Linked DNA regions of Homo sapiens. The protein of the gene in region 1 interacts with the protein of each later gene in a biochemical or structural test. Each region holds a gene or a part of one and is shown in the gene's direction. Other genes may lie near its edges. The genes, in order: MAP3K7 and NOD2.

What was found.
Region 2: the proteins of MAP3K7 (region 1) and NOD2 form a complex in vitro, tested with the Homo sapiens proteins (2 studies listed by BioGRID).

What each region holds. Positions count from the first base shown.
Region 1 is NC_000006.12:90,552,474-90,556,295, reverse strand, and holds part of MAP3K7 (mitogen-activated protein kinase kinase kinase 7), read left to right. Parts: intron 1-2,709; coding exon 2,710-2,838; intron 2,839-3,822. UniProt on the Homo sapiens protein: Serine/threonine kinase which acts as an essential component of the MAP kinase signal transduction pathway. Plays an important role in the cascades of cellular responses evoked by changes in the environment.
Region 2 is NC_000016.10:50,727,912-50,731,733, forward strand, and holds part of NOD2 (nucleotide-binding oligomerization domain-containing protein 2), read left to right. Parts: exon of another isoform or gene 1-539; intron 540-1,101; exon of another isoform or gene 1,102-1,239; intron 1,240-1,906; coding exon 1,907-1,990; exon of another isoform or gene 1,991-2,042; intron 2,043-3,822. UniProt on the Homo sapiens protein: Pattern recognition receptor (PRR) that detects bacterial peptidoglycan fragments and other danger signals and plays an important role in gastrointestinal immunity.

The sequences.
Region 1 (3,822 bases):
ACAGTTGATCCTCATTGTTCACCAATTTCTTAATTGCAAAATTGCCTATTTGCTAACATTTATTTGTAACCCCAAAATTAATACTCATGGTGCTTTCATGGTTATTTGCAGACAGTGCTTTCATGTACTCGCAGACAGTGTGCATGCGCTGAGCAGTGCAAATTTTGAGTCATCTAACGCATGCTTCCAGCTGAGGTTGAACAAGACAACGTTTTTCCGTCTTGTTTCAGCTCTCATGCTGTAAGCAGGTGTCCTTTTTTGTGCTGTTCAGAGCCCTTTTTCATTTTTGTGATTTTTGTTGGTAATTTTGCTACTTAAAATGGCCCTCAAGCATAGTACTGCCTAAGTACAAGAAGGCTATGATGTATCTTAACAGACAATATACATATGTTAAATTATCTTCATTCAGGCATGAGTTACAGAAATGTTGACTATGAGTTCAATGGTAATAAATCAACAGTATATATGAATAAGGTGTCTTTAAGCAGAAATACGCATGAAACAAGGCTATATATTGATCAGTTGACAAAAACATGGTGACCAGAGGCACACAGGAACCTACCCCTGTATTTTCCTTAGGAGCAGTGATTCAGTGTTCACTAATTCAGTGTTCTCAGAAACTTTATAGAACATAAATACCAGGAATAATGAGAATTAACTGTGCTTTTGTATTGGTTTCCTAGCAATTAAAAATTGAGAGCCCTAAAGTTTAAATGAGGATGCCTTAAAAAGAATGCAAATAGCTGGGCGCGGTGGCTCAGGCCTGTAATCTCAGCACTTTGGGAGGCTGAGGTGGGCGGATCATGAGGTCAGGAGATCGAGACCATCCTGTATAACACGGTGAAACCCCATCTCTACTAAAACTACAAAAAATTCGCCGGGCGTGGTGGCGGGCGCCCGTAGTCCCAGCTACTCGGGAGGCTGAGGCAGGAGAATGGTGTGAACCCGGGAGGCGGAGCATGCAGTGAGCCGAGATCGTGCCACTGCACTCCAGCCTGGGTGACAGAGCAAGACTCCATCTCAAAAAAAAAAAAGAATGCAAGTAATTGGACAGAAATAAGATACTAAGAATTACAAATAAATGTCAAGCTTATATGTTTACCTTCTTTTATACCTCCATATGTCACTGAAGTTTTAAAAGAGTTGTCTGTAAATTATATGCTAGGTTTCTGTATAAAAACATCAAATTATCTTTTAAATGAAAGAAGTTGAACTGAAGGTATGTGATTTGTATGTTAGGAAGTGTAAATGCCCATAAAATTCAGATACATTCAGTTAATCAGACTCTGGTTATAGCTTATTTCTTTCAGTTTTGATGACTTTAAAGGGTTTTCTGTTTGTTTTTAGCCACCCCAGAGGAAGAGAAATTGCAATGCAACTAGTCACCTGAGTGGAGCTCTTTTGCCCTAAAATTCAATTTAGTAATAAATGAATAATCAGGTGTTATATTACACAAGATTAAATAATGCCTCCTGTTTCATATACAGAATGTATACATTTGACATTGTTTTAAAATTATTTACTTATTTAATATACCTTTATGTGAGTTAAAATGACCCAATGTTACTGTATGTGGAGAGCAAAAAGATTTGTTTATACAAAAGATTAATTTTATTGCTCTAGACAACCCTTAATTGTCTAGAGCAACAAAATGCAGACTGTTAGGCTGTGTAAGTTTCTTCATTTCTGAAAGATGTCAGTCAACCTGTAGCCCAAATTAGACTGTAGCATGGTTGTAGTGCTATATTACAGTGTACTGCTTAGCATGTAAAGCTATAGCTATAATAATTGTTCATTCTTACAGTGAGTTGAGTGTTTGTTTGTTTTTGGGAGATTATGACGGGTGCTTATTGTGCTGGCTGATTCAACCACCTACTTAGTTTGTAAATTTTGCTGTGTAACTCAGGTTATCCATAATTTTCGTTACTTACAACGTAATGTTTAAGTTTATAAATTAAGAATTTCCCTTCACCATATATTGAGGAAAAAACTGTAACACTAAATTAGAAAGTTCTTCTGCTTTGATAGCAGAGTAGTGCTGTCTGTCAGAGTGGGAAGAAAATTTAAGATTAAAATGTAACAGAAAGGAGGCCAGGCACAATGGCTCATGCCTGTGATCCCAGCGCCTCGGGAGGCCAGAGCAGGAGGATCAGTTGAGCCCAGGAGTTTGAGACCAGCCTGGGCAACATGGCAAGACCCCATCTCTACAAAAAATTTAAAAAATTAACCAGTTGTGCCAGCGCATGCCTGTAGCCCCAGCTACTCAGGAGGATCACTTGAGCCCAAGAGTTTGAGGCTACACTGAGCTCCAGCCTGGATGAGAGTGTGAGATCCTGTCTCAGAATAAAATAATAATAAACAACATAAAGGAATGTACAGATGTTTCATACTCTGCCCCAGAGAAAGTATCAGTCTAAATACATAAAAGTCAAGTCCTGTGCCTCTTGATGAAAAAACTGCCTCTTGATGAAAAAAGATAGAAAATAACTGAGTTTCTGAAGTAGTTTTTTAGTGTATTGTTGATACTTAATTCATTTAAAAATGTACTTGTTGAAAAGACAAAGTACTTCAGAAAGAGTAGTTTCTTAGTTCTACATGTGACAGCCTCATTTTTATCCCTGATACCCATTCTCAAAATTTAAGCCATTGTTTCTGTAAGTCATGTGGAAAAATAGTCTTTAGGTTATATACTACCTTTTTTTTTTCTAGGTAGTAATTACAGTGAAAAATGTGACGTCTTCAGCTGGGGTATTATTCTTTGGGAAGTGATAACGCGTCGGAAACCCTTTGATGAGATTGGTGGCCCAGCTTTCCGAATCATGTGGGCTGTTCATAATGGTTCGTAAAAAGAAATTTTTCTTAAAAGTACTTTTTGTGTTTTCTACTTGGAAGACTACTCCTGTCCCCTTCCCTAAAGAATATCATTTATCTCTAACATTAAAATGTACAATTCTTTGTTAAGAGACTGCTTTGCTATTATCAGACTCTGCCCTGTCCCTGCCCCAGAGTCCAGCAGAGCAGGATTGAGAGTAGTCCTGGTCTACACATGCGGCTGAGGATGTTCACTGGCTCCGCTGATTAGGGAAAGGCCATCAGTACGCAACCTAGACAGTTGGCTCTCTCTTAGGGAGAAGCATCAGGCTGGATCATGGAAAAAATAAAAAAATACATACATAAAATCTCTGACATGGTTAATATAACTGGAGAGTTATAGCCCTTTTCTCCTGAAGAAGCAAGGGCCTCATCAAGGAGAAGAAGCAAAGAATAATAATGCTTCACATATTTTTCCTGTTTATATTCTCACCCACCCTTAGAAGGTGAGTACTGTTGCCTCATTTTACAGATTAGGAAACTGAGGCCTAGAGAGGTTAAATAACTTGCTTAAGGTCACAAGATTAGTAAGTGGTAGAGCTGGGATTCAAATCCAGATGCTTCTGACTTGAATGCTCATATCTTAAGTCATATTGACTTATGGACTCAATGTCCTTGCATCTGTCCTGTTTCTTTTATAGTTCTGGTAATGTTGTTTTTAACCACATATGATGTTAGAATGCATCCTCTTCATTAGTAAAGTTACTTTACATTTGCTTGGGAAAATAGCTTTTCATGAAGGAAAATTACTTACCTTCTTAATTTTAGCGCCACTCTTAGTTATTTCATTTCTATGCCTTGTTTATAATCATGTGACTAATGGCCATTTTTTACATTATTCCACAAGTCTAAAAACAAATGTCTGCCTAATTATTTAGGTCATTCATAGATTTATCAAACAGTACCATCATCTGAGTAATCTTAGCTGTTTTTACCAGTTTCCTATACTGC
Region 2 (3,822 bases), on another chromosome or scaffold:
TTTGCCTTTGGGAAGTGCTTTGGAGCTTCTTCTCGGTCCAACCACTGAGCTAGTCATTGCCAGTTGTATAAAATCCACTTTTCATCGCACGTCACAATCAGATCAAGAAATGGTTCGCTGTTGTTGTGTAGAATAAGAGAAGATGACACTTCAAAATGACGATTTTCTTGGTTTTCACTCAGCTCATGAGGCACACACTTATCGAGGTTTTTCACCTTTCCAATTTGCTTCAAATGCTGAATGACCATGGAATGGTCGATGTTGAGTTCTCAAGTAGTTGTAAGAAAATCAGCTTTGATGATTGCTCTCAATTGGTCATTGTCAGCTTCTGATGGCCTGCCAGTACACTCCTCATCTTCAAGGCTCTTATCTCCTTCGCAAAACTTCTTGAACCACCACTGCACTATACGTTAGTTAGCAGTTCCTGGGCCAAATGCATTGCTGATGTTGTGAGTTGTCTCCGCTGCTTTACAACCCATTTTGAATTCAAATAAGAAAATTGCTTGAATTTGCTTTTTGTCTAACATCATTTTCATAGTCTAAAATAAATATAAAATAAACAGAAAGTATTAAGTCATTAGCAAAAAATCATAAAGTGAGAATTGTGCATTAAAATGATGTATAGCATAACCACATTTATTTAAGAATGTATTCCAATATCAAATGGCAAATTTCAACAATGCAAAAACTGCAATTACTTTTGCACCAATCTAATAGAAGTTCAATAAATACTGGCAATTACAATTGGCATTGCCTTAGGGTCAACTTGTAAGACATTCCTGAAATTGTGGGAAAGGGGGAGGACCTGGAGTGGACATTATTGGAAGGCAAAGCTGTAACCAAAAGAGCAACCTGGGAAACACATGACTCCTCTGTTGCTGTCCCTGGCCCTATCCTGTCTCCCCTCCCTGTTGTCAGCTACCTCATATGTTCTCTAATCTCTGTCTCTGTGCCCTCAAAGACCCCCCTGAAAATAGAAATATTACTGCTCATTGGTTATTTTCTATCAATTAAGTACTGTATTAGTCCGTTTTCATGCTGATGATAAAGATATACCCAAGACTGGGCACTTTATGAAAGAAAGAGTTTTATTGAACTTACAGTTCCACGTGGCTGGGGAGGTCTCACAATCATGGCTGAAGGTGAAAGGCACATCTCACATGGCAGCAGACAGGAGAAGAGGGCTTGTTCAGGGAAACTCCCCTTTTTAAAACCATCAGATATCATGAAACTTATTTACTGTAATGAGAACAGGATGGGATTCAATTACCTTCCACTGGGTCGCTCCCACAACACGTGGGAATTCAAGAGATTTGGGTGGGGACACAGCCAAACCATATCAAGTACTGTGCAAGTGTTTTAGGCATGCAGAGAGTGGTGGGTCTTCCCAGCAAGCAGAGTGTGGGGAGGTAATGGGGGACTGGTGGCTGACTTAATGGCCCAGGACCCATGCCACAAGGAGATGGATGGTGGATGTGAATAGGAGCCTGCTTACACCCATCACAATTTAGATTCTTATGCTCGATGGCACGGGTACTCTTTTAGGCCCATTTTACCAATGAGGAGATTGGGACTAATTTGCTCGAGATCAAAAAAGAAGTGGTGTAGGTGGGATTTAAACCCAGGATGTCTAGCACTAAAATGCAGGTACTTAACCACTATCCTAAGGGAGTGGCTACTTAATTTGATAAACTCATCTAGTGAATGGAAGAGAGACGGTTACATTTCACTGATGGTACTGAGCCTTTGTTGATGAGCTCATTGGGAATCTCAGACATGAGCAGGATGTGTCTAAGGGACAGGTGGGCTTCAGTAGACTGGCTAACTCCTGCAGTCTCTTTAACTGGACAGTTTCAAGAGGAAAACCAAGAATCCTTGAAGCTCACCATTGTATCTTCTTTTCCAGGTTGTCCAATAACTGCATCACCTACCTAGGGGCAGAAGCCCTCCTGCAGGCCCTTGAAAGGAATGACACCATCCTGGAAGTCTGGTAAGGCCCCTGGGCAGGCCTGTTTTAGCTCTCCGAACCTCAGTTTTTCTATCTGTAAAATGGGGTGACGGGAGAGAGGAATGGCAGAATTTTGAGGATCCCTTCTGATTCTGACATTCAGTGAGAATGATTCTGCATGTGAAGGATCTGATTCTCTGTCTAAGAAAGAAGTCTTTACCTCTTTAAGTAGGGAGCAATGATTTCATTTTTAAACCTTGACTATTTATTCAGCAACTTCTCTGCTCTATGAGATAGTGTAGGAATGGGGATGTGGTTGAAGAATGAAAAGAAAAGTCAGCTCCCGCCCTCCTAGAAATTGCATCTGCCTTCACAGGTCAAGGATATTGGATCAGACCTTCTGCGGTTCTGAATGGAGATTACACAGGTTAGGAGCAGGTTGCACAGTGTTTCCAATTCTCTATAATTAAAGCCATAGACTTTCATGTATTGAAAAAAGCAAGAATTGCATTCTTGACAGATTCTTTCATTGCCTTAAAAAGAATGACTAGCCTTGGGAGTCTGGGCAGCTGGGTCCAGTGTTGTAGACTTTCTCTCTGCTGAGCCACAGCTTCAAAGATTTGTCCTTCTTGTTTCCAGGGATCTATTTCTCAGACAATAAGTAAAGGCTTTCCCTGGCCTAATGTGCTGTAAGTGAATGCTACTATATATGTTCCAGGCACTGGGCTAGAGACTAATATTTAAAAGCCAGGAAATTTCCTATAGAAAATCTATATCTCAGGGTTTTCTCAAAAGAGCTGGGAACTCTGGATGCCCATTCATGATTCCAGTAGTTAACCAGAGTACAAGAAGGGCTGAGTCTTCTCAGATGGGCAAACCCACTCTGGCTGACTGCAGATCCACCAAGCCTATTGTCTTAGACCAGGACCCTTTGGCAACTCATTCCCATAAGCCTGTGACCCTTGCTTTAAATATGCAGGCCTTGTCTTCTCTCAAAAAGCACATCAAGGCTGCAGCGAATGCAGATATCAAATGATGAAGTTAAAAACAAAAGCTTTGCTGGGCGTGGCAGCTCACACCTGTAATCCTAGCACTTTGGGAGGCTGAGGCAGGAGGATCACTTTAGGCCAGAGGTTCAACACCAGACCTTGTCTCTCAAAAAATAAAAAATTCAGCTGGGTGCGGTGTAGTTCCTAGCCACTTGGGAGGCTGGGATGGAAGGATCCCTTGAACCCAGGAGTTCAAGGCTGCAGTGGGCCATGATTGCATCACTGCACAGGCGACAGAATTAGATCCCATCTCTTAAAAAAATAAAAAATTTAAAAGTGACTTCAAAAATCTATGCTGTGATGGAGAGATTTTTCCTTCTGTATGATTGTGATAGCTCTGTGGCCTATGACGTCATCAGGTTCTGGGCAAAGTGTAGGTTTTCTGTTTCTTTGTTTTTGAAACCATTGCACAGTCCTAAGAAACATCACATTCTGGGTCCTGGGCACCAGCCAACATGAGGTTGATATTTTAAGGGGTCTGATGTTATTTGCTGCCTGTTGATGGAACTTGGGAGGGCACCAGGGTTTGCTCATTGCATTCTTGACAGATTCTCTTATTGCCTTAAAAAGAATCACTGGCCTTGGGGAGTCTGTGGCTGGCTGGGTGCAGTGTTGTGGACTCTCTCTGCAGAGTCATGGAGCCTTGTTCAGAATGCTTCCTGAGCTGCCCTGGTTGGCCAAGGGTAAAAACAGCCCTGACTTCCCTGCAAGAAACACTGCAGCTGGGCCAGAGAGTCAGCCCATCCCAGGCATGGGTTTAAAAAGTGGAGGCTTTTGTTTGAAAGCCCTGCTCTAATTTTGTCCTCACTCAAACCTCTGTTCACT